Linked DNA regions of Homo sapiens. The gene in region 5 interacts genetically with the main gene of each other region. Each region holds a gene or a part of one and is shown on either strand. Other genes may lie near its edges.

What was found.
Region 1: changes in FASN (region 5) and CAMK2G together harm fitness less than expected from each alone (positive genetic interaction), as found in Homo sapiens cells (one large-scale study listed by BioGRID).
Region 2: changes in FASN (region 5) and SLC39A8 together harm fitness more than expected from each alone (negative genetic interaction), as found in Homo sapiens cells (one large-scale study listed by BioGRID).
Region 3: changes in FASN (region 5) and GFPT1 together harm fitness more than expected from each alone (negative genetic interaction), as found in Homo sapiens cells (one large-scale study listed by BioGRID).
Region 4: changes in FASN (region 5) and FLNA together harm fitness more than expected from each alone (negative genetic interaction), as found in Homo sapiens cells (one large-scale study listed by BioGRID).
Region 6: changes in FASN (region 5) and RPLP2 together harm fitness less than expected from each alone (positive genetic interaction), as found in Homo sapiens cells (one large-scale study listed by BioGRID).
Region 7: changes in FASN (region 5) and DNAJC24 together harm fitness less than expected from each alone (positive genetic interaction), as found in Homo sapiens cells (one large-scale study listed by BioGRID).

What each region holds. Positions count from the first base shown.
Region 1 is NC_000010.11:73,843,556-73,847,055, forward strand, and holds part of CAMK2G (calcium/calmodulin-dependent protein kinase type II subunit gamma), read right to left. Parts: intron 1-3,500.
Region 2 is NC_000004.12:102,265,483-102,268,982, forward strand, and holds part of SLC39A8 (metal cation symporter ZIP8 isoform a precursor), read right to left. Parts: intron 2,598-3,500; coding exon 2,390-2,597; intron 2,193-2,389; coding exon 2,008-2,192; intron 1-2,007. UniProt on the Homo sapiens protein: Electroneutral divalent metal cation:bicarbonate symporter of the plasma membrane mediating the cellular uptake of zinc and manganese, two divalent metal cations important for development, tissue homeostasis and immunity.
Region 3 is NC_000002.12:69,377,228-69,380,727, forward strand, and holds part of GFPT1 (glutamine--fructose-6-phosphate aminotransferase [isomerizing] 1), read right to left. Parts: intron 1-3,500.
Region 4 is NC_000023.11:154,357,635-154,361,134, reverse strand, and holds part of FLNA (filamin-A), read left to right. Parts: intron 1-547; coding exon 548-1,145; intron 1,146-1,229; coding exon 1,230-1,403; intron 1,404-1,488; coding exon 1,489-1,651; intron 1,652-1,728; coding exon 1,729-1,889; intron 1,890-1,980; coding exon 1,981-2,151; intron 2,152-2,566; coding exon 2,567-2,690; intron 2,691-2,779; coding exon 2,780-2,936; intron 2,937-3,500. UniProt on the Homo sapiens protein: Promotes orthogonal branching of actin filaments and links actin filaments to membrane glycoproteins. Anchors various transmembrane proteins to the actin cytoskeleton and serves as a scaffold for a wide range of cytoplasmic signaling proteins.
Region 5 is NC_000017.11:82,088,237-82,091,736, forward strand, and holds part of FASN (fatty acid synthase), read right to left. Parts: intron 3,449-3,500; coding exon 2,986-3,448; intron 2,834-2,985; coding exon 2,646-2,833; intron 2,329-2,645; coding exon 2,139-2,328; intron 1,905-2,138; exon of another isoform or gene 1,724-1,904; intron 1,491-1,723; coding exon 1,396-1,490; intron 1,149-1,395; coding exon 1,014-1,148; intron 937-1,013; coding exon 733-936; intron 641-732; coding exon 525-640; intron 327-524; coding exon 154-326; intron 72-153; coding exon 1-71. UniProt on the Homo sapiens protein: Fatty acid synthetase is a multifunctional enzyme that catalyzes the de novo biosynthesis of long-chain saturated fatty acids starting from acetyl-CoA and malonyl-CoA in the presence of NADPH.
Region 6 is NC_000011.10:808,771-812,766, reverse strand, and holds the start of RPLP2 (large ribosomal subunit protein P2), read right to left. Parts: upstream 2,801-3,996; 5' UTR 2,728-2,800; intron 2,534-2,727; 5' UTR 2,533-2,533; coding exon 2,410-2,532; intron 1,171-2,409; coding exon 1,122-1,170; intron 1,087-1,121; exon of another isoform or gene 953-1,086; intron 233-952; coding exon 134-232; intron 8-133; coding exon 1-7. Other genes in the region: PIDD1 (p53-induced death domain-containing protein 1), read left to right, coding at 3,815-3,820. UniProt on the Homo sapiens protein: Plays an important role in the elongation step of protein synthesis.
Region 7 is NC_000011.10:31,414,860-31,418,359, reverse strand, and holds part of DNAJC24 (dnaJ homolog subfamily C member 24), read right to left. Parts: coding exon 3,411-3,500; intron 1-3,410. UniProt on the Homo sapiens protein: Stimulates the ATPase activity of several Hsp70-type chaperones. This ability is enhanced by iron-binding. The iron-bound form is redox-active and can function as electron carrier.

The DNA.
Region 1 (3,500 bases), on a different chromosome or scaffold from region 5:
CAAAAATGACCCCAGAACAGAATATTTCCCCCATTCTTGGGTGCCTGTTTCAGGTTGCTTGCCCTCTCCCCTTGCTGTTGCTGTCTTCACCAGCCTGTCAGAAAAACAAATCCTGGCACCTGCAGCCAGGTGCCCACCAACACTACGGGGCCTCCTCGCATCCTTTCCCTCACCCTTGGCCCACTCTTTCCAGGTCCGGAGGCAACTCTCCCCACCTTCTCTACCTTCCCCAAGTCTCTCATTTTACCTCCTCCTCGGTGTAAATTTCTCCAAAAGCAAAATGAGAGGTCATCAGCAAGAACCCCTTTCAGCTCAGACTTCCACTCACAAGCCGATCTTCACCTGCCTCCACACTAATAGAAGTCTCAGGGGGATCATGGTCATCCCCGGGATGGACCCCCTGCCCTTGGCTCAGGAGCCCCCTCTCTTTTTCTGCTGTCCAAACCTTTGCTTCCTCAATTAGCAAGGATCTTCAACTCTTTCCTCTGGACTAGATTCTTCTCTATAGATTATAGTTAAGCCTCTCCTTAAACAAAAAAATTTTTTTTTTTTTTTGAAACAGCATCTCACTCTGTTGCCCAGGCTGGAGTGCAGTAGCACAATAATGGCTTACTGCAACCTCCACCTCTCTAGGCTCAGGTGATCCTCTCATCTCAGCCTCCCAAGTAGCTAAGGCACGTTACCACAACCAGCTAATTTTTAAAGTTTTTTTTTTTGTAGAGATGGGGTTTTGCCATGTTGCCCAGGCTGGTCTCAAACTTCCGGGCTCAAGTGATCTACCTACCCTGGTCTCCCAAAGTGCTGGGACTACAGGTGTGAGCCACCGCTCCTGACCAATATAATCTTTAAAAAGAAATTTTTTCTTCTTTAGAGGCAGAGTCTCCCTCTGTCACCCAGGCTGGAATGCAGTGTCATTATCTTGGCTCACTGCAACCTCCACCTCCTGGGTTCTAGTGATTCTCATGCCTCAGCCTCCCAAGTAGCTGGGATTATAGGTGTGTACCAACATACCCAGCTAATTTTTTGTATTTTTAGTAGAGATGGAGTTTCACTATGTTGGCCAGGCTGGTCTTGAACTCGTGGCCTCAAGTGATCGCCTGCCTTGGTCTCCCAAAGTGCTGGGATTACAGGTGTGAGCCTTACATTAAAAGCTCCCCTGGCCCATCTTAATCTAAGTATCACCATTTATTTCCCACCTCAATGCCTAGCTCCCCATGCCCCTCCTCACCCTCACTCCCTCTTCGTCTCACTGAAAACAGGGTTTCATCTTTCTCTCCACTGTCTCAGTGAAATGATGAAACAATGGCATCTAATGGTCAGAGCCAGGGGATTCTTCCCCAACTTAATCAGGGACTCTTCTGCATCTGATTCCTGACGCTCCCTTACTGAGACCCCCTGTTTCTTAGCTTCTGGGTCTTCTGGAAGGTCTCACTCTCAGTGCTCTTTGCTGGGCCCCCTAACTCTCCCTATCATTAAATGCTGGTGTGTAGTGGCCGTCTCTTCTCTACTACAGCCAATAGAAGCTCACCGTAAGAACTCAACCAGCATAGGAACAGGCCCATCTACAGCATAGGAAGAGGCTATTTCTACAGCCTCACTACCAACTACACAGAAATGACTACAATGTGGATTTCCAATTTTTAGCTTCTTTTCTAATCTCTAGGACCATATTTCTAACCACCCACTGAATGTGTCTGGCTGGAGGTTGCCAGACTCAGCAGGCACAAAATGAAAACCATCATCTTGGCCGGGCGCAGTGGCTCATGCCTGTAATCTCAGCACTTTGGGAAGCCGAGGCGGGTGGATCATGAGATCAGGAGATCGAAACCATCCTGACTAACACGGTGAAACCCCATCTCTACTAAAAATACAAAAAATTAGCCGGGCGTGGTGGCGGGCACCTGTAGTCCCAGCTACTCGGGAGGCTGAGGCAGGAGAATGGCATGAACCCGGGAGGCAGAGCTTGCAGTGAGACCGCGCCACTGCACTCCAGCCTGGGCGACAGAGCGAGACTCCATCTCAAAAAAAAAAAAAAAAAGAGAAAACCATCGTCTTGTCTCACAAACAAGCTCCTCCTCTGGTTTTCTTCTGGGTCAGTGAGGGTACAACTCTCCGCTCAACTTGAAACCTGGCCTCTCTCTTCTTTGCTCCCCCCAAATCCAACTGGAGAGAATTAAATCCTTTAGGTTCTCTCAAATATCTCTTGAATTTCAACACACTGCACATTCCCCCATCCTTACCCTCTGCTGAGACCTCACCTGGTCTTGCTTAGACTATTCCAACTATTAAAAAAGCTTCCTGAGCTCTCTGTCTCCAGCCCTTTTCTTTTAAAAATTTTCAATTCCCTTCTTTTTTTTTTTTTTTTTTTAAAGAGGTGGGGTCTGACCATCTTTCCCAGGCTGGAGTACAATGACTATTCACAGGTGCAATCATAGCTCGCTGCAGCCTCAAACTCCTGGGCTTATGATCCTCCTGCCTCAGCATCCCCAGCAGCTGAGACTACAGGCACATGCCACCATGCCTGGCAATTCATTTCCTCACAACTTCCAAAGTGTTCTTAAATGCAAATTTCATTCTTCTTTAAAACCCTTAAATGATTCCCTATGTTTTCAGAATAAAATCCAAACTCCTGAGGCAGAAACTTGTATGTCAGGGAATCTTTTGCCCCATTCTCTTGCATTCTGATATTTGCAGCCTCATCGACAACCAAACAACTCAACATTCCTTCAACTCACCATAGTTTCCCATAACCTCTCACTGTGCTAAACTCTGTCTGCAGGTTAACGTTCTGAGGACCTCGTTATTTGCCAAGAACAAGCACAGGGGTGTCACCTCCTCCGTGCAGCCTTCAGTAACCCCACCACCCACCAGGAACAGTAGGAGCTCCTGTACTCTCATTAGATTCTTGTACCTACTTGTCACATTGTAACATGACTGCCTGTTTGAGTGCCTGTCTCCCTAGATGATCTTTTGGGGCAGGGACCATGCCTCATTCATCTTTGTATCTCCAGCACCCAGACGGTAACCAGCACCAAAGAGGTATTTAATAAACACAGAATGGACAGATAAATAATGCCTCGTGGTTGTCAAGATGCCTAACTCTACCAAATCCTCTTCTTTGTCTGAAAGTTGATATTTCAGCTTGAAAGAATTGTGTATAAAAACAGAGTACGTCAACCCACACTGATAGCCTAGAGGACTCTCCTAGGACTTTAGCGCAGAAGCTTTATGCCTCAGCTTTTATGCTTTTAATGACTCAGAAACCCCTTCTGTTGATTTGTTGGATCTTGGTCACCACTCCAGTGGAGTTGAGATCTGAGTATGAACCCCAGCTTGGGAATTCACTTTGGGTTTTGCCAGCTGCTTTCTATCACCGGCTACCTGGAGTCCACAAGGGTCAACCTGAGCCCTCATCCAAGAACAGAACCAATCCCAGCCTGACAGCCATGAGTGGGGGAGAGAGGAGCAGTGGCCCACCAGCCCCATCAGCCTCCCGAGTC
Region 2 (3,500 bases), on a different chromosome or scaffold from region 5:
TAAAAATTAACAAAATGTGACAGAGACAGGAAATAAGCCCATGCTATTCAAAAAATGGCACTGACAGATTTGCTTGAGGCAGGGTTGCCAAAAACTTTCAATGTGCAAAAAACCTAGCATTTACAAAGTGCATCAAAGCAATGTGCAATAAAACAAGGTGCTCCTGTAATAGAATGCTGGGAGGGGTGGTATGATCATTTACTTTGGATGTTTAAAGGTTTTAGTACTGATAGCTTAATAGGAATATCTAGTTCTTTCAGGCATCAACAAGAGTAAAAGTACTGAAGTAGTATTTTTCTCCAACTGAATCAATCAGTGGGATGGAATTTACCTCATTTTATGTTCTCTTTCTCCTTTTCCATTACCTGCTCTCTATGCTTCACCCAACCCATTCTTTCATGACCTCAAGTTTACCCAGCAAAATCTTCACATCTACCATCACCTGTACCAGAACTTGTATTTCTCTAATTTTTCAGTGGACTAAATCCTTCACGTTTTACCTTATATCTTGCTAAAACACTTTTGCTAGCTAATCCTAGTTTATTCTAGATTCCTTTATTATCATCTCTCATCATATATTCTACTTTCTCTCTTATTTCATAGCATTTTTTATTATTTGTAATTATTTAGTCATCTGTGTGATTTTTTGTTGTTTAATTTAAGGATCCCCTCTTTCTAGAGGAAAAGCCCCATGAATGGAAAAGCCCCTTGAACTGTGCCTATTTTGCTCACTCCAGGATGAGTATTATTTCTTAGTATTATTTCTTTAAACTGAACAACTCTAGTAAGATTCCATTCTTATATCAGAAAGTAAAATGACTATAAGATAGCATGAGACATTAATTTTGTGACAAAAGTTATAAATGTAGCATTGGTTCTAAGAGATGAAATCCTTGCTCTTCTGAGGGTCTGCAGAGAACAACGAACAGAGCTAGACAAATATAATTTGGAGGTAAGAATGCAAATAAAAAACTCAAATTATTAAATTATGTATGTAATACATCCAGTTCCAAATGCAAAAGAAATAGTCCTTGATTTTCATACACTACCATATTATCATTTTATAGAAAGATTTCCATGATTTATTTTAAAATGCACAGGATATTCTCTCTCTTACACACACACATGCACACTCTTTTTTTTTTAGATGGAGTCTCGTTCTGTCGTCAGGCTGGAGTACAGTGGCACAATCTCGGCTCACAGCAACCTCTGCCTCCCGGGTTCAAGCAATTCTCCTGCCTCAGACTCCCGAGTAGCTGGGATTACAGGCGCCCGCCACCACGCCCGGCTAATTTTTGTAGTTTCAGTAGAGACAGGGTTTCACCATGTTGGCCAGGATGGTCTAGATCTCTTGACCTTGTGATCCGCCCGCCTCGGCCTCCCAAAGTGCTGGGATTACAGGCATGAGCCACCGCACCCGGCCATGCACGCTCTTTTGAGCACAAACACACACATACACACAGATACAAAGACACAGACATTGAACAGATATAAATATATACTATGTCAAATAACTATTGTCAAAATTTTACCAATTTTAGTGTACCAGTTTTAGTTTAACCCAAAAAGCTGTCACTGTTTAGAACTTTGAAATAACAAAATGCTATTTACTCTAATAAGTTATTCCTCTTCCAAATGTGGCATAGACACAAAAGAGGGAGAAAAAGGAGAAAAAGTCCTATAGGGACATACTATAACATAAGACAAGATGTACCAACCACAAGGGGAATAGAGATAGAGGAAAATATCTCTATTTCAGCAAAAACAAATCATTTCACCTTCAAACAATACGATTATGTTTTAAAGAACCAGTGAGGATCAGTTTCAAATTACTATTAGTGTAAACTACTCAAGTAGAATGATCTGTTGAAATGGGATTGTTCTGAATTACAACAGAAAGGCCTTCCACACTGCGGAAAGCAGAAGGCCACCCTTAGTTAACTTATAATCCAGATACTCATTTCCAAATTTTAAATTAAAAGAAAATACAAATTTTAAGCTTCTTACCATATCTGCCAGAGAAATATAGAGGAACATGCCTCCAGCAAGTGCAAATATAATATTTGGAGCGAAATTGTTGCCCACCAAAATGCCAAAAGCTAGCCCAACATAGCAGGAACATGCAGAAAGGAAGTTGAATAGCAAGGCTTGTCGAGTGCTCATCCCTGCATTGAGTAGGATCACAAAGTCTCCTAGAAGAAGAAGAAGAAAATATCAAGTGAATAGTTTTTTTTTTATTTCTGGATGATATCAAAGATAATCATCAATGTCCAACAAGGTCTTCATTTTAGTGCATCAGAAGGATTTTAAGAGCATGTCACCTGAAAAGTCTCATTCCACTGAAATCAAGAAGTAAGCAGACTTTTACAATATGAACAGAGCTCCTTACCTAACTCGTGGGGAAACTCCTCACATAGGATTGCTATGGAAGTACTGAGTCCCTGAAGGAGAGACAAGGTGCAGGAAGCCCCAATCGCCAGGCCATCGATGAAATTGTGGAGGGCATCGCAGAGCGTTATCATCCAGGCAATCGTCCCTATTTCTGACAGTTTGGGCCCCTTCAAACAGGTACATGAACTTGGCTCTTTTTTTCCATCCTAGCAGAAAATCAATTAAAATGATAACCAACATTTCTTGAAAGTCTCAGAAATACAGACAAGTTGGAGATGGGTTGTGCTTGAGAAAAACAAATTGTTCCAACAGAAAGTCTTTTAGAGTAACTAGGAAACCCTAATAATATATAACAGAGCAAAGAAAACTTATGGTTGAGAGAAAGGAAATTCATCAACTGACACACCTCGAATAAGCCACTAACAGATATTTTCCTTTACTTTCCCTTTAAAACAATTCTTTTGACTTGTATAAACTTCTTCCTACTGCCTTTCTAAAATGTAGCAGATATTAACCTAAGAAATTTATTTATACACAAGATTTAAAATGAAGGAAGTTATTCAAAGACTAAACTTAAAGTCTTTTTTATGTTACAATTTAAATGTGAAATCCACAACTAGAGCATGATGAATGACATCAGCAACATTTGTTCTAACCCCTCCTATGCCACCATGTGACAGGGAGCAAGTTATCACAGAGTTCCTTCAACTGTGAAATGAAGACATTGTACTAAATGATTCATTTATTTATCAACAACTTATTGAGTTTCCATTCTGTTCCAGGTACCCTGTGGAGGGTTTAGGCTGTAACAATATGGTCTCTACCAGCTCCAAAGCTTAATTATTTTCTTAACAAATTGCATGAAGTGTAAATGGAACAGGCTAGCCTTTACACTAACACTTCCTTTCATGTAGAAACAATTAAAAAATAGAAAATCCTGTGATGGACTCTTTGTAGGAATTTAGATTTCCAGAAAATTTACAAAATTGTACAAAATCAAATGACAAATGCCAACTAAAACACTTTCCAGAAGTTGTAGAAAAAGATAAAATGCAAATTCATTTTTAAGTACAAAAGCACTTTGCAATTAACTGGAGAACATTTTATTC
Region 3 (3,500 bases), on a different chromosome or scaffold from region 5:
GATTAAGTAATGCAATATTAAATTCACTGTTTTTAATAATGTAACTCAACAACAGCATTCAACTTTAATAATACTTCTAACTCCAATCTCCTTGGTTTATAATGGCTCACTATATGAATCTTGAGAGCTTAAGAACATTTTGGCTGGGCACAGTGGCTCACACCTGTAATCCCGACACTTTGGGAGGCCGAGGCGGGCGGATCACGAGGTCAGGAGTTCAAGACCAGCCTAACCAACATGGTGAAACCCCGTCTCTACTAAAAATAAAAATAAAAAAAAAAAAATAGCCAGCTGTGGTGGCACGTGCCTGTAGTCTCAGCTACTCGGGAGGCTGAGGCACGAGAATAGCTTGAACCTGGGAGGCAGAGGTTGCAGTGAACCTAGACTGCACCACTGCACTCCAGCCTGGGCAACAGAGCAAGACTCCGTCTCAAAAAAACAAACAAAGAAACAAACAAAAAAGTAACAGAGCTAGAAGAAGGAAGGGGATTAGCCTCAGACATACCTGATGAGGAAAATGGGAGCTAAGAAGTTGAACCTGTCAGTTTCATAGCCCTGTCCCTTGATAGCACTACTAGCCCAAGACATTCCACCTGCGGGGATACCGGGTTAACTGTAATCTTGGGGTGCCCGAGACAATACTGGCAGCAATTCATCAGGTACACAGGGCATGTTCACAAGGGAGGCATTCACAACTCACAATGATGCTTGTTAGAGCAGAAATCGTTAGTCTGACCTCTATTTTCAGGTCTTTGACTTGTCTTATCAAAACTCCCAATAAACAGTTTTTTGTTTTTTGTTTTTTTGAAACAGAGTCTCGCTTTGTCGCCAAGGCTGGCGCCATCTCAGCTCACTGCAACCTCCACCTCCCAGGTTCCAGCAATTCTCCTGCCTCAGCCTCCCAAGTAGCTGGAATTACAGTGGCCGCCGCCATGCCCGGCTAATTTTTTGTATTTTTAGTAGAGATGGGGTTTCGCCATGTTGGCTAGGCTGGTCTCGAACTCCTGACCTCAGGTGATCCACTCGCCTCAGCCTCCCAAAGTGCTAGGATTACAGGCATAAGCCACTGCACCCGGCCTAAACTCCCAATAAACAGTTCTTAAGTAAGGTAATGACAAAAGCCTAATATCAACTTTCCGCCACTCTTCAGTAATTGCTCTAAGAGCACACACAGTAGCTGTATAAGCATAGATTCTCTACCCCCAAATCAGCATGCACTTCACAAGTGTAAGCTTTCTTACTAATGGAATATACTTGGAATAAAATAACTCCATAACTGAAGCAGATGCTTGAACCTACAGGCATCATTCTCAATAAATGGCAACTTAAATTCAATGACAAAAAAGCAATTATGAGCACCTTGCTAACAAAATTTCAGAAGCAATCTGGATCACAGACTAGACACACCTGGTTGAAAGCAATGTAGCTGCAAATACAGACTGTTAAACCTTACTGAAAAGAAAACTGACTCGTCAAATTATTAAAATTCCTATGTCTGGTTGCATTTATGTCCTTATGAATACTAAATTTTATTTTTATATATTTTATCATTTGACAGCTGCAATATTTTGGGACCCTAAACATTGTAACTTATCAGTGATAAGTGTTCAAATTCATTCTCTAAACTTAAAACTTCTGAATCAAAATCTACCTACAATGTCACTTAAACTCTAAATTTTATTTTTCTTATAATGCTAGTCACAAATTAATTCATCACCATCATTAAAAATTCAAAGTAGGCCAGGAGCAGTGGCTCACATCTGTAATCCCAGCACTGTGGGAAGAGAGGCAGAGGTTACTTGAGCTCAGGAGTTCGAAACCAGCCAGGGCAACATACCAAGACCCTGTCTCTATTAAAATTTGAAATAAATAAATAAATATTAAAACTATACAGATGCTACAGAATTGTGAAAATCTCTCCTTTCTGTCTCCACACAGGTTCCAACCCCTTTCTCAGAGATAACTACTGTTATTCCCATACACACACTCCCAGTCCTTCAGCTATAAATTTTTCTACAGGCCAGGCACAGTAGCAGATACCTGTAATCCCAGCACTTTCGTAGGCCAAGGCGGGAGGATCATGGGCAGGAGTTTGAGATCAGCCTGGGCAATACAGGGAGACCCTGCCTCTACCAAAAATAAAAAATTAGGCATGGTGGTGCATGCCTGTAGTCCCAGATACTTGGAAGGCTGAGGTGAGAGAATCACTTGAGCCCAGGGGTTCAAGGTTGCAGTGAACTAGTCAATATTATAATTATGGAATCACATTCTACATTTAAGATTTCTTTAAAATTAAGTATTATTTGAGATACATTTTCTTTTTTCTTTTCACCAGGGGTCTGCTCTGTCGCCCAGGCTGGAGTACAGTGGCACAATCCCAGCTCATTAAAACCACCACCTCCTGGACTCAAGTGATCCCCTCATCTCAGCCTCCCAAGTAGCTGGGACCACAGGCACATGCTAATGTGCCTGTAATTTATTTATTTATTTACTTATTTATTTTTAATTTTTGAGATGGAGTTTTGCTCTTGTCGCCAAGGCTGGAGTATAGTGATGCGATCTTGGCTCACTGCAACCTGTCTCCCAGGTTCAAGCAATTCTCCTGCCTCAGCCTCTGGAGTAGCTGGGATTACAGACGTAAGCTACCACGCCCAGTTATTTTTTTATTTCTTGTAGAAATGAGGTCTTACTACATTGCCCAGGCTGGTCTCGAACTCCTGGACTCAAGCGATCCTCTTGTTTCGGCCTCCCAAAGTGCTGGGATTACAGGCATGAGCCAATGCATCCAGCCAAGGTACATCTTCTACAATCCTAAAAGCACATATAAAGGCCAGATGCCGTGGCTCACGCCTGTAATCCCAGCAATTTGGGAGGCTGAGGAGGGTGGATCACTTGAGGTCAGGAGTTCGAGATCAGCCTGGCCAACATGGTGAAACCCCGTCTCCATTAAAAATACAAAATTCCTAGCCAGGCATGGTGACGCGTGCCTGTCCCAGCTACTCAGGAGGCTGAGGCAGAAGAATCACTTGAGCCCAGGAGGTGGGGCAGAGGGTGAAGTGGGCCGAGATTGCGCCACTGCACTCCAGGCTGGGCGACACAGTGAGACTCTGTCTCAAAAAAATAAAAAATGTAAAAGTAAAATAAAATAAATCACACATACAAAAATAACATATGGAGTGAAACAATTAAGACTTTCAATTATTTGTGTGTTTAATTGGTTCATGTCTCCCCTACTTTACTGTAACTATTGCCACTAGAAGGGGCTCCATGACACGTCTCTTGCACATTTAACATTCTGGAGCTCAAATCACTAGTTAAGTCATGACATCTCTATACATTCCCTCACAGTCAACCTATGTCATCATCTTTCTTGAGAAAAAAAAGCATGTACTTCCTGCTCACAATCTTCAAATATTCCATCTCTCTCTCTTCTGACCATTCACATCAGACTACAATTTTTCATCATACTGCCAAGTCAAACCCTCTGGGTCCACTGTGCT
Region 4 (3,500 bases), on a different chromosome or scaffold from region 5:
GAAACCCACAAAAAGTCATCAGGGTTGAAGAATTTCTTTTTTTTTTTTTTCTTTCTTTTTTTTTTTTTTTTTTTTTTTTTTTTTTTTTGAGAAAGAGTCTCACTCTGTCGCCCAGGCTGGAGTGCAGTGGCGCGATATTGGCTCACGGCACCCTCCGCCTCCTGGCTTCAAGCAATACTCCTGCCTCAGCCTCCCAAGTAGCTGGGATTACAGGTGCCCGCCACCATGCCCAGCTAATTTTGGTAATTTTAGTAGAGACGAGATTTCACCATGTTGGCCAGGCTGTTCTCAAACTCCTGACCTCAGGTGATCCACCCACCTTGGCCTCCCAAAGGGCTGAGATTACAGGCGTGAGTGACCGCGCCCTGCCCTCCTTTTTGTCCTTATGACTGATGGATGGCCCATCTGGCAGGCAGCCTGGGCCCGCCCGTGTCCCTGTTTGGTGAGGGCAGGAAGCCAGGGCAAGGGGAGGCAGGTGGAAAGTCAAGCAGGAGGTCTGGGATCGGGGCATAGTGTGGCCTTGGCTCCTGACCCCTTCTTCCCTCAGGTGAAGGCGTTTGGGCCGGGGCTGCAGGGAGGCAGTGCGGGCTCCCCCGCCCGCTTCACCATCGACACCAAGGGCGCCGGCACAGGTGGCCTGGGCCTGACGGTGGAGGGCCCCTGTGAGGCGCAGCTCGAGTGCTTGGACAATGGGGATGGCACATGTTCCGTGTCCTACGTGCCCACCGAGCCCGGGGACTACAACATCAACATCCTCTTCGCTGACACCCACATCCCTGGCTCCCCATTCAAGGCCCACGTGGTTCCCTGCTTTGACGCATCCAAAGTCAAGTGCTCAGGCCCCGGGCTGGAGCGGGCCACCGCTGGGGAGGTGGGCCAATTCCAAGTGGACTGCTCGAGCGCGGGCAGCGCGGAGCTGACCATTGAGATCTGCTCGGAGGCGGGGCTTCCGGCCGAGGTGTACATCCAGGACCACGGTGATGGCACGCACACCATTACCTACATTCCCCTCTGCCCCGGGGCCTACACCGTCACCATCAAGTACGGCGGCCAGCCCGTGCCCAACTTCCCCAGCAAGCTGCAGGTGGAACCTGCGGTGGACACTTCCGGTGTCCAGTGCTATGGGCCTGGTATTGAGGGCCAGGGTGAGTTGCCCTGCCGTGGGGTATGTGACGGGGGACAGGGACCAGAACCCCCGAGCCCCAAGCCTCCTCTCTGTGCCTTTGCAGGTGTCTTCCGTGAGGCCACCACTGAGTTCAGTGTGGACGCCCGGGCTCTGACACAGACCGGAGGGCCGCACGTCAAGGCCCGTGTGGCCAACCCCTCAGGCAACCTGACGGAGACCTACGTTCAGGACCGTGGCGATGGCATGTACAAAGTGGAGTACACGCCTTACGAGGAGGGTGCGTGCTGGGGACTCCCACAGGCTGGCAGACGGGGTGGGTGGGGTGGCCCGGGCTCCTCCTGACCTGGCCTGCACTCCTCCAGGACTGCACTCCGTGGACGTGACCTATGACGGCAGTCCCGTGCCCAGCAGCCCCTTCCAGGTGCCCGTGACCGAGGGCTGCGACCCCTCCCGGGTGCGTGTCCACGGGCCAGGCATCCAAAGTGGCACCACCAACAAGCCCAACAAGTTCACTGTGGAGACCAGGTAAGGGAGCCCCCAGGAGCCCGTGTGGCTGGTGGGCCTGGGAACCCCAGGAATGACCGGCTGTCTGTTTGGACCAGGGGAGCTGGCACGGGCGGCCTGGGCCTGGCTGTAGAGGGCCCCTCCGAGGCCAAGATGTCCTGCATGGATAACAAGGACGGCAGCTGCTCGGTCGAGTACATCCCTTATGAGGCTGGCACCTACAGCCTCAACGTCACCTATGGTGGCCATCAAGTGCCAGGTGAGGAGGTGGCGGCCAGGGCAGGGCTGGGACTGTCTGCTCGTCCCCACCCTGTCTCATACAGCCGCCATCCCTTTGCCCCAACCCTCAGGCAGTCCTTTCAAGGTCCCTGTGCATGATGTGACAGATGCGTCCAAGGTCAAGTGCTCTGGGCCCGGCCTGAGCCCAGGCATGGTTCGTGCCAACCTCCCTCAGTCCTTCCAGGTGGACACAAGCAAGGCTGGTGTGGCCCCATTGCAGGTCAAAGTGCAAGGGCCCAAAGGTGAGTGTTTGCATGCCTGGAGCCAGGGGTCAGGAGGGCAGTGTCCTGTTTGAGGGCCGGGAAAGGAAACTGGAGGCCCAAAGTGAGGACCAGAGTGCAGAGGTGGTGCAAGTGTGTAGGTGTTTTTGGAAGAGCCTCAGGTGACAGTGCAGCCAGGTGGGGGACTTGGAGGAGGTAGAGCAGATGGGACTGGTCACTGAGCAGATGTGGCAGGAAGGCAGGCAGGCAAGGGTCCCAGCTGGCACCCAGATGGGTGTCTTTCGTGCCAGAGGGGGTCAAGGCCATTCCCAGGGTCGGGTGGATGAGGATAAAGCGAGGTCTAGGCCTGGGGCTGGGTCCTGGCCGTCCAGTGTGGTGGGGTAGGAATGGAGGCCCAGGAGACTAGCTGATGCTCTGTCCCTGGGGCTGGGGCCAGGCCTGGTGGAGCCAGTGGACGTGGTAGACAACGCTGATGGCACCCAGACCGTCAATTATGTGCCCAGCCGAGAAGGGCCCTACAGCATCTCAGTACTGTATGGAGATGAAGAGGTACCCCGGAGGTAAGAGGCAGGGCCTGCTGCCTGTGGGGAGTGGCCCAGGCTGGATGCTGAGAACCTGTCTGACTGCTCACAACACCAATCCCTCACAGCCCCTTCAAGGTCAAGGTGCTGCCTACTCATGATGCCAGCAAGGTGAAGGCCAGTGGCCCCGGGCTCAACACCACTGGCGTGCCTGCCAGCCTGCCCGTGGAGTTCACCATCGATGCAAAGGACGCCGGGGAGGGCCTGCTGGCTGTCCAGATCACGGTGAGCTCCGGGCACAGGCAGGGGAGGCAGGGGGGCCTGGGCGGCTGGAGTGTGGGCTGCGGGTGGCTGGTGTCTGATCTCCCTGCGGAGCTGCACCAAGGAGGGCAGGGAAGGACAGGGCCCCTGTCTTTGGTTTGCTAAGGTTGTGACTACCTTAGGATGGTGGTGACAGGCACAGGCTTCCCCAGACGTGCACTTGCTGCTAACTTTGAGCACGTCACCAAAGCCTTCTGTGCCTCAGTTTCCCCACCTGTAATATTCTCATGGGGCAGGTATAGGATAGAAGCTTGAGATCACCCCGGTGAGCTCCTCCTAGTGCTGGCCAGGCCCTGGGGCTGAGGATGGGTGCCAAGCTGGCTGGCCGCGCCTGTTGTCATGTGGGAAGTGTGGGATGTTTTAGTCTCCATTCTGGACTCTGCCAGGTGCAGGCAGCCCTTTTGGGCCATAGCAGTTAAGATGCCTGAGGCCCAGAGACTGTCCCTGTAGCAGCAGCGCTGGGCACTCTGGGAGCGCCTGAGGCAGGCCCGGGGCTACTCGGGCTTGGGCCAACTGCCTCCCCTGCCT
Region 5 (3,500 bases):
GGCGGGGAAGAGGACGCGACCGTCGAGGGTGTGGTCCACCAGGTAGTGGTCAGGAGACTCGGAGCTGGTGTCTGCGGGAGGGCACAGGCCTCAGCACAGAGCGGGCGTCTGTGGGGAGGGAAGAGTCTGCCCACCCGCCGGGCCCCTGCTCACCGATGTTGTAGATGGCGGCTGAGGGGGAACCTGAACCGTTGGGGAAGTCCTCGGCGGCCGGCACGTCCCAGGCCAGGCTGTGGTCCCACTTGATGAGTGGGGAGATGAGGGGAGTTCCTCGGGGAGCTGGGAACTCCACAGGTGGGAACAAGGCATTGGGGTTGGCGTCGATGCTACGGAGAAGGGAGGCATGGGTAGCACACCCGTCACCGGGGTCCAGGGGCTCTGGGTTCAGCCCACCCACTGCCTGCGGTGGACCATCCAGGGCTGCTGCCACCGGCCTGGGTCAGTGAGGGGCCCGCAGCCCCGCTCACCCACCCCACGCCGTCCCCGACTCCGGGAGACGAGACCCGGGCTGGGAAGGGACCCACCCTGAGAGGTGCAGCCTGCCGATGCCGGCCAGGAAGAACTCCAGGTTGTCCCTGTGATCCTTCTTCATCAGGGGGATGATGGTGCAGCTCGGCTTCAGGCCACGCTTCAGGACAGCCTGGGGGCGGCAGGGCAGGTGGGCTCTCTTGGTGCTCAGCTGAGGCGCCCATCCCAGGCTCCCGGCGCCTGCTGCCCCCAGGCTGGGCCTACCTGCAGCAGGGCGTGGGGCGCGATCTCCAGCACCACCGCGTGCTCAGGCACGTGCCACAGGGCCTCCTGGAACAGCACAGGGCTCACCAGGTTGTTGACATTGTACTCGGCGGAGGACGTGCGTGCCAGGCTGCTGTGCCACTGGGCCTCGGGGATAGAGGTGCTGAGCCAGCGGGCTGAACGTGGCTTCGGCTCCCGGATCACCTGCATGAGGGGCCAGGTCAGTGCTGGGTTGTGGGTCCCCTGGCCCGCCCCGCACCCCCCAGGCCGTATTAGTCCACCTTCTTGAGCTCCTGCAGCAGTGGGGGTGCGATGGCCTCCATGAAGTAGGAGTGGAAGGCCATACCGCCGGTCCGCACCTCCTTGGCAAACACACCCTCCTTCCTCAGCTGCTCCACGAACTCAAACACCGGGGCCTGGACATCGTGGGAGCCTGGATAAGCATCCTGGCTGGGCACCCACCTCAGGCTCGGAGAGGTAGGGCGCACCCACCTCACCCCAAGGGAACCGAGAGGGAATGGGCAAGGGACCTGAGGACAAACCTGCCCCATGCCCCAGGCCCGTCAGAGCTTGGTGGGGCGTAGACCGTGGCCGCGTGTCCCTGCCAGACTTGCAATGGCAGGCGCAGGGGACAGAGGAGCCCGCCCAGGCCGCAGCACCCACCTGAGGTCCCGAGATGGTGACTGTGTCCTTGGAGTTGTGGCAGGCGGGCACCACGCCCGGGGGGCAGCGCTGTTTACACTCCTCCCAGGACAAGCCTATGGCAGAGCCAGCCTCAGAGGCTTAGCGTGGACACCGAGCCGCTCCCAGCCACCCACCCACCCAGACACTGCCTGCAGCTGGGGGCAGTAATGACAAGTGTGGTAATGGCAGCCTTGGAGCCTTCATGAGAAAGGTTCGCCCCCTGCTGTGTTTGACCCGTGGGTGGAGGTGTCATTACAGAGCTGCCACTCCAGGGGCAGCTCCTGGGAGCCCAGTCCCCAGATGGTGGCCCCCTCAGTCCTCTGCAGCCAAGGTTCTTTCCAGGTCCTGCCCACATGTGGCCCATGGGGCTCAGAGATGGGTGCCAACAGAGGGCACCAGTCTGAGGGAACCCTGATGACCCGTGTGTTGGCTTCACCAGAGCCCCTGGGTTCTTGCTATGCTGCAGCTGTGTGCTCATCACACGGGGGCTCCACGCAGGCCTGATGCCCATGGACACGTGCCTAGGCCCAAGGCTGCCAGGTGTGGGGCCAGTGGGGCAGCTGCAGGGGACTCGCGCACGGCTGTGTCCGAGCTGGGTGTCCCCGGGCCAGCGGGGGCCACTCTATCCTACGGGGGCCAGGCCAGGGCTGCAGGTGAGGACCCCACAGCGAGAAGGCAGCCTCCTTTCTTGGAGGTGCTGGGGGCCCCTCCGGGAGACCTACCCACGGCTGCCATGGCGCCCGGCGGGAGATGGGCTTCTTTGATGCACTGTCCCCTCCAGTAGGCAGCGAGGACGGCCTCCTCCTGGGACAGGCAGCCGTCGGCGTAGCCACAGGCCACCTCCCCCAGGGAGTGGCCGACGATGCCATCTGGCCTCAGCCCCATGCAGCTCAGCAGGTCTATGAGGCCTATCTGGGGTGGGAACAGGACACTCAGGTTGCAACCTCCAGCAGGTGCAGCTGTTGGGGGCGGCCCCCGGCCCCACTAGGCCATCTCCACCCCCGCGCCCCATCGACCCTCCCAGGTCTCCTGATAGGAAAGAAGCCCCTATGGCCCCCACACAGCCCCACTGAGACCCCTCCTCCCCTCCCGTCCTGCCCCCAGCACAAGGCTCTGCCTAGCAAAGGGGCTGTCAGGGGCCCCGGACTCAACACTGCAGCTCCTGGGCTCCAGGGAAAGCCAGAGCCCTGGGGCTGGCGTTGCTCACACGCTGGCAGGCTGGGCCCTACCTGGATGGCAGTCAGGCTCACAAACGAATGGACGATGTCATCAAAGGTGCTCTCGTCTGTGCTCAGCAGCAGCTGTGACACCTTCAGGCCGAATGGCTTCACAGCCTCATCGGAGCGTAGGATGGAATCTCGGAAGCGGTCCAGGCGCATGAGGCTCAGCCCCATCCCGCGCCACTGTGTGCCCATCCCTGTCCCAGAGAGCACGTCACGAGGCTCAGCCCCATCCCGTGCCACTGTGTGCCCATCCCCGTCCCAGAGAGCACCTCAGGGGACCACCAGCTCCAGTTCGCCTGCCTTTCCCCAGGGAAGGGACCACCTTGGGGGCAGAGTGTGGGCTCACCAGAGCAGATGAACCAGAGCGGGCGCTCGCCAGCGGGCACCTGCTGCACCTCTGGGCCACCGCGCTCACCACCCAGCACAGCGTAGCCACGGAAGGGCATGGCGGTGGCGGGGACAGCCGCGATGTCGTTCAGCATGCTCAGGAAAGCCAGGTCCTGGCTGTGCCGGAGGCCCTGCTCCAGCAGCTTCTGCACGGCCTCAGGGGTGCGTCCGCTGGCCCGCAGCAGACGGGGCAGGGTGGCATGTGGGGCGGGTGCGGGGGGCGGCTGCGTGTTGGGCCTCAGGATGATGTGCACGTTGGAGCCCCCGAAGCCAAAGGAGTTGATGCCCACGTTGCCGCCACGGACGGGCAGGGGCTGGTCCACCACCTGCAGCCGCCCATCCAACAGCGCTGGGATCTCAGGGTTGGGGCTATGGAAGTGCAGGTTGGGGGCCCAGAGCCCGTGCTCCAGGGACAGCAGCACCTGCGGGGGTACGTGGTGGATGGGCAGCCGCCCCACTCCCTCTACCACTGCC
Region 6 (3,996 bases), on a different chromosome or scaffold from region 5:
TCCTCTGCTGTGGAACAGAGGAGAGGCATGGTGAGCACTGCCCAAGTGCCAGGCCAGTCCCCCCATGAAGACCCCACTGCAGCAACACCGTCTGAGCCCCAGCCCCTTGCCCACTCACCAGGCCACCACTTACCTGCAGCAGGGGCAGAACCAGCAGCAGGGGCTGCAGAGCCTGGGGCAGCAGAGACGGCTACAGCCCCACCAGCAGGTACACTGGCAAGCTTGCCAATACCTACAGAAAGCAGAGAGGTGAGACCAGAGCAGCTGCCCAGCCTGGGAGGCTGTTCCACAGGGAAGTTAGATGGCACCAGAGATGGCACATGGCACCCAACATATCTGGACCCACCATATGCCAGTGTCTCCCGTTCTTCCTGAACACTCCCTCCCTGAGCCACTCCTCAACGGGGACTTCTCTTCCCCACCTTTCCTATCCAGGGACTTGCCTTCTAGGAATTAGGCCCACACTGCCTGCCTGCCCAATTTCCCCACCTCCACCCTCAGAGGTCCACTGGACAGACATGTTCATAACTAGGTAGGGAATGAGTGTGCTGCCCCAGTATCCACATCTCTGGCCACAACGCTGTGTTCATGGCTTGGCCCGTTTGCTGAGCTGGCCCTGTCGTGGTCACATGCATGGAAGACAAGAACAGCTGCCCCAACAGCTCAACTTCCAAACAAGTTCCACCAGCTCAGCTGAAGCCAACAAAAAACCATCTGCCCAACAAAGAGGCAAGGAGCCTATGGACATCCCTGGCACCCTCAGTCCCTGCCCCCAACCCCCTCACAGAAAGCATGTGGTAAGGACTGCTGACGTGAACTCAGTTCTCCAGACACCAAGCTTCAGACAAATCCTGGGGAATGGCCTCAGGGCTAGGAGCAGTCAGGCTTAAGAGGCAGGGCCACCTAAACGTCTGCTGAGAACACAGGGTGCCCCCTGCTGCCCTGCTCCTGAGAGTGTCTAGAAGTGCCCATGACGTGAGCCCACTGGAGCCCTGCTCACTCCTCGGGTGAGGCTTCTAGGGTGCTCTGGTCCACAAGCGAAACCTGGCAGGCCACAGATGGACCGGCAGGGATTAGGATGGACCATGAAAACAAACGAAAGCCCGTCCACATCAACTCACCCTGGGCAATGACGTCTTCAATGTTTTTTCCATTCAGCTCACTGATAACCTGAAGCAGACAATCACAGGGCTGTTACCAGGAATGTACGATTGTATCCCCGGCCCTCTCCCTCCCAGAGTCACAGCAGGACTGGGTTCCCCACATGGGAATAGGCCCTGAAGTTTCCAGAACTGCACTGCCCAAAGGGAGCCACCAGCCTCACTTGGGAAGTGATATAAAAATAAATGGACACTAGCTTTCTTAGACTTAGGACTGACAAAAGGACACAGGGCATCTCACTACTTATGTTGACTACTCATAGGTATCTTCAACACTGGCAAAATAAACTGGCAATGAAATTGACTTTGACTTCAGGCTGGAGTGCAGTGGTAGGATCTCACTGCAGCCTTGACCTCCCGGGCTCAAGTGACTATCCCACCTCAGTCTGGGACTACAGGCATGAGCAACCAAGCCTGGCTAATTTTTTATTGTATTTTAGAGACGAGGCCTGGTTCTGTTAGACTGCAGTGGCACAATCACTACTCAGTGCAGCCTTGACCTCTAAGGCTCAAATGATTCTCCCGCATCAGCCTCATGAGTAGCTGAGACTACAGATGTGCACCACTGCCTCCAACCATTTTTTTTTTTTTTTTTTTTTGTGGAGACCGGGTCTTGCAATGTTTTCCAGACCAGTCTCGAACTTCAAGGCTCCAATAATCCACTCGCCATGGCCTCCCAAAGCCGGGTGAGCCATGCGCCAGGACTGCTTTTTTTTTTTTTTAACGCAATCTTACGCAGCTCACTGGTATTAAACTTCCAAAGCTTGTTAATCACGATTTTGCCTCGTACCCACCCTGCTTTTTTTTTTTTTTTTCCTTTTGAGACAGGGTCTCCTTCTGCCACCCAGACTGGAGTACAGTGGCACGATCCGTGCAACCTCCATCTCCCGGGTTCGAGCGATTTTCCTGCCTCAGCCTCCCAAGTAGGGGGACTACAGGCACCCACCACCACGCCCGGCTAATTTTTGTATTTTTAGTAGGGATGGGGTTTCGACATGTTTACCAGGCTGGTCTCGAACCCCTGACCTCAGGTGATCCGCCTGCCTCGTCCTCCCAAAGTACTGGGACTACAGGCGTGAGCCACCGCGCCCGACCTCCGCCCGGCTTACTTCTCTATCCAAGAAATCGCCAACTAGACTGAAACGAGCCTCTCCCCGAACCCTCCAGCATGTGGCCGGATCAGGCAGAAGAATCGCCTGTATGGGACACTGGGGCCCCACGGCGGCTGCGGGGCAAGGGCGGCCGCTACCTTGTTGAGCCGGTCGTCGTCCGCCTCGATACCCACGCTGTCCAAGATCTTCTTGATGTCCTTGGCGCTGGGGGAGGAGTTGCCCCCTAGGGCAGCCAGCAGGTAGGAGGCGACGTAGCGCATCCTGAGGCGGGCGGAGAGGACGCGACGGCGGAGTTACCCCGGCGGCCTCCTGCCGGCCCATCCCGGGGCCGCCGGGCGAGGCCGCGCGTGGCTCGGCCCGTAGGCCTCCGTCCCAAAAATACCCCGCCGCCCACCCCGCATCCCCACGGACTCCGCGTCCCCAGCCGGCACCCCGGGCCCGGTCACCACACTCACGCGGCGGCGTCTGCGGCGGAGGCGGCGGAGAAGTCTCACGCGTGCGACCTCGGTGGCGACAGGGAGGAAAAGGAAGGCGCCGACGCAAGAGGCGGGGTTAAACCGCTACCCAGAAGGCTCTGGGACCCGTGCGCGGCGCCGCATGAGGCGCCTCAGAGTGACGTCACGAGGCGCTCAGCCAATGACGACGGGGAGGGAGTCGTTGACTCCTTCCCCCTCCCCCTTCCCAGCCCCCGTCAGGCACTTTTCGCGGCAAAGGCGAAGGGCAGCAGTTCCGGAAGTGACTGCTCTTATAGCGTGGGGCGAAGGGCCACCGAAACTCGTGGGGGCGTTGGACGAAGCGAGTCCAAAGGGACGGCATCTGCCTTCGGTACCTAGCACCCCCAGCATGCCACGCGGCGCCTACAGCTCCCAACATGGAGCGCGGCCGCCACGCCCGGGACTCAACCTTTGCCAGCGAACTGCAAGTCCCATGGTGCACCGCTGCCGGAAGTGGCCTGCGCCGCGGGCCTACCCGGAACGGCGCGTGGGCCCGGGCAGAAGCTGCTGGCGGTAGGCTCGCCTTGACTCCTTGGTGGTTCCCTGGCCGCGGCGACCGGTGGTCCCACGTCCAGCCGGGCTCAGTGAGGTGAGCCAGCCGCCTCGGACTTAGCGACTGCGGCCCTATCTGGGAGGCCGCCCCCGCACTGCGGTGTCAGGGCATCCTGTCAGAGGACGAGCGCGGGCCTTGGAGGGCAGGACAATGACGTGAGGCAGCGTCGCCCGCTCACCCCTGCGAGGAGTGAGGTCTGAGTGGTCAGCCCCTGCGCTGGCCGCTTTGGCCCGGAACTGACCTCGGTGTCCATGTGGACATCAGCACCTCAGGGACCCCGCTACATTCTCGGGTCCTGGGAGGGAACAGGGTTGGCCCTGCCTCCTAAGGACTTGAGTTCTTGTGCGAGGACGCAGGAGGTGAATAGGGAGGCGATCCGAAGGACAGGGACAGAGGGAGACTTGGTCCTCTGGGCAGCCTGAGAAAGCTTGAGCTGAGAGATGAGAAGGAGCCATCCCTGCCAATATCCCGGGCGAGCACCAGGAACAGGGTCAGATGCAGGTATCTACCGTGTTAGCAGGCAGCGCCAGCTCCCGTTGGGCTCTAACAGCAGTGCAAACCCTGGGGTGTGTATACGTCAAGCACTGGAACTCGACTTCACAGTCGCCTTCTGTGGCCTCGTTATCATTACCCCCATTTTATAGATGAGGCAGTTGGGTACAGAAAGGTTTTTTTGC
Region 7 (3,500 bases), on a different chromosome or scaffold from region 5:
CAAGATTTATAAAGGCAACAAAATCTACTCAACAGGTATTATTCATGTGAACATTTTATAAATCCTGAAAGGGTTTTCCAAAGTGCTACCTAAACAGTAGGTCAATCTCCATTTAAAATTGAAATGCAAAGCCTAATCTTGAAAAACTACATGCCTTTCAGGGGAACACTGGAAGCAGCCTTTGGAGGCATCCTCAGAAACAATAAGTTTAATATGCCAACTAGAACTAATTGATTAAATTCAGAGTTAACATTGCTTTCGAAATGTATAATCTCTGGGAACTAATTATTACTCATTCTTTTCTTAAATTTACTTTTCTTCAGCCTGGCCAACATTGCTCTAAAATGTCAACTAAGCATATAGAAGTAGGAATGAAGGAGAAAAAAACATACATGCAATACTTTGGGTTATCTGCCCTGGAGTATTACTTTTTCTTTATTGGAAAGAACACATATGATCATTTCTTTTGAGAAGCAAAGAAATATGGACGTCAAGTGTCCCTTTAAATTATCTTTTAGATAAATATATGGCTGTGGGCAATATTGATGAGGCTTTCCTTAAGACAGAGCACCAACATGGAGCTATGAAACACGAGAAAGCATTCAAGACCAGCCAATAAAGCATTTCCTACCTCCTTCCCAAGTACTAGAGAGCTCAATTTTATTTTATACTGCAAGTTAATGGTGGGCAGGAAACAAACATATTTAAAGCACACCCCTATGAAAAGAAAGGTTTACAATGAATTATCACCACATGTAAAAAGAGTTCTGTATAACAAAGCTATTTCCATGTCCCCAGGGGGTGACCCAGAAAAAAAGAGTGCTTTGACCTGGTTATAACAAACTCTCTCTCTCGGTAACCTATCCTGGTCTTTAACAAATTATTACTCTCAAAGGTTTTCCTTCTAGCAAACCTAAATCCTCACTTTTAGAGATGTTCAAGTTCATTTCCTTTTTTTGAGGAGCCATTTTACTGAAGCTGAGTCAAGAAGAAAAAATTAATAACGGTATTCAAAAGAAATAACAATATGAAAGTAGGTTTATTGTAAGAGTTTTGAAAAATAGCTCTGGTATGAAAGGCTTAAAAATAGCAAGTTATATTTGGATACTCTTCTTACCTAAACAGTATGTCAATCTCCATTTAAAATTGAAACAAAGTAGTGTCAGTATTTGGAGCCTCTGGTAAAAGAGGCAATACTTAGTACTTAAATCTGAGGTACTAAAGTGTCATGAAAAGCTGTCCTTCTAGAACAGCTAAATTCAGTAATATGCTGCCTGAAAAACTTGCAGAGCAAACTGATATTGTATAAATTCCAAACTATTTATCTGAATCATGAATCAGGTCCAACTCTCACAGTATTTACTTTGTCTAAACTTCATTGTGACTTCATCTATGACCTACAGGAGTACCCTGTGACACAGTAGGCCACAGGTGCTTCCATTAAGATCTTAAAAGTAGGACTCAAAGCTCAAAAGAAATCCGCAGTTCCAAGGACCTTTCGAAGACAATGAAAAAGGCATGAATATGATGATTATTTGTCTTCTGACATCTCTCAAATCTTTCTTCATGCAATTCTCTGCTAACTTTTAACCTGGTTTCCTATTTCTTTTGGTTTCTGGCCTACCCCACCCTGTAGCTTCTTGAGAAAATATTTTTATGATTCCTGATCCCTCCCTACCTCTTTAGAGAGCAGGCTTCTAGTCAACTTCACTAATATGTTCTTAATAGTACACAGGCTGTGGAGTGGCAAAAATGTAGAGCAACATTGAAAGTATATACCCTATACTCTTTAGGGTACAATGTCGTGTGAATTATTTTTATCTCAAGCAAACTGGCATCCTATATAGTAGAGACTAGTAAAGATGTGCAAAAACACCTGAAAGAATCATCATCTTCAGTAGAGCGTAGTGGCTTTAGGAATGTAGATTTCTTCTAACACACAACACATTCATGTGCATTAGTTTCAATTCTTTCATAGAAATCATGTGAACCAAGGTTAAAAAGATACACCAACGGGTAGAACTTATCATCAAACGAAGCCACTTCTACATTCTTTTGCAAAAAGTACAAACATGTTTAAAAAATAAATACATTAGACAGATGCTCATTATGCACCCAGCAAAAGCAGAACCCAATATTCAAGCCATTTTTGAAAATTAACCTTTGCTTTGAAAAGCAAAGGTACACCCATCAGGTTCTTAATATTTAAGAAAAAAATAAGCTCATCAGTCTTTTAAAAAGTAGTAAAGCCTTTGAGCTGATTAGTACTATAAATAAGTCACTCTTATAAACAAATACTCCAGTACATAAACAGTTCAAGTCTTTCCACACAGAAGTATCACACAGCCTATAAGAAACCTTAATTTTCTTGGTAGAAATCCCTCTGAAAATAAATAGGGATGTCTTGCAAATGTCACTGGCTTCATCTTATAATGCTGTGTTTTAAAAATAAAGGCTTGCTTCTCAAATCAAATTTTCATAACCTTAGTACTAACAAAGCCTCAGAATCATTTTGTGAGGTCTGATGGTGTGCCATTGTAGGGCATGGGAGGGGATTCAATAAGCGACTACGAGACAGCTTTTATCAACACATCCCAGTCAATGCTGAGCCTGATATGCTATTGGAGAGAGCGACTGAGTGTTTTCCCCACAGGCTGTAACTGATTATTGACTCCTCCCATTAGCATGTGGGGTGCATATTGAAGGTTCAAACACAAGGCTGAGGGACTCCTGTCCCTAGGCCAGTGCTGAAAGACAGCCTATCACTTCGTGTAACTGCAGTCCATGTGTGACAAACCTGACCTACATTTCCCTCTTTCTTTCTCATAACAGCTTGTCACTGTTTTAAAAAGCTATTTTCTAAAAAGCATAAAAGAAATGACTTTTAAAATTGCTTAGGTAATGTGCATTCCTAAAATATCATTTATACCAATCACAAGGAATAGTTTATCATGAAGATAATCATGAAACCCAGCCTAAAATGAGCTCAAAGACAGCAGAGTGCTTTATGATGTCATCTGATATATAGTATCTTCATTTGGATTGTCATTTATACTGTATAGTCTTAAAAGTACAATTAAAATGTTAATCCATATTTATTTTAATAAAAAGTTTTTAAACATATAAAGCATATTAGTTAGTAATGTGTAATTAAACATTTTTCAAATGTTATAAAAAGTAGCTTTCAAGGCTTCACAAGAAGCCACATCCTAGTAGTTTTGTTAACTTCTCAATGGATACACAATAGTCACTGCTAAGAATAGGGCATAATTAAAAACAGTGATGGAGGGGAGGAATAAAGGCAACAATAACACTTGGTGCAAATGCTGGAAAATGCTCCCCAGGAATGGCTGCAGAGTGTGCTTCTAAGAGTTGCCGATGTGCTGTGGCTCCTCAACACAAGCACCTACCACACCGCTGCAGGTCATACTCTCTTTTTGTCTCTTCATTTCCTAGAATTTTCCATGCTTGATCAATTTCGATGAACTTCTGTACACATT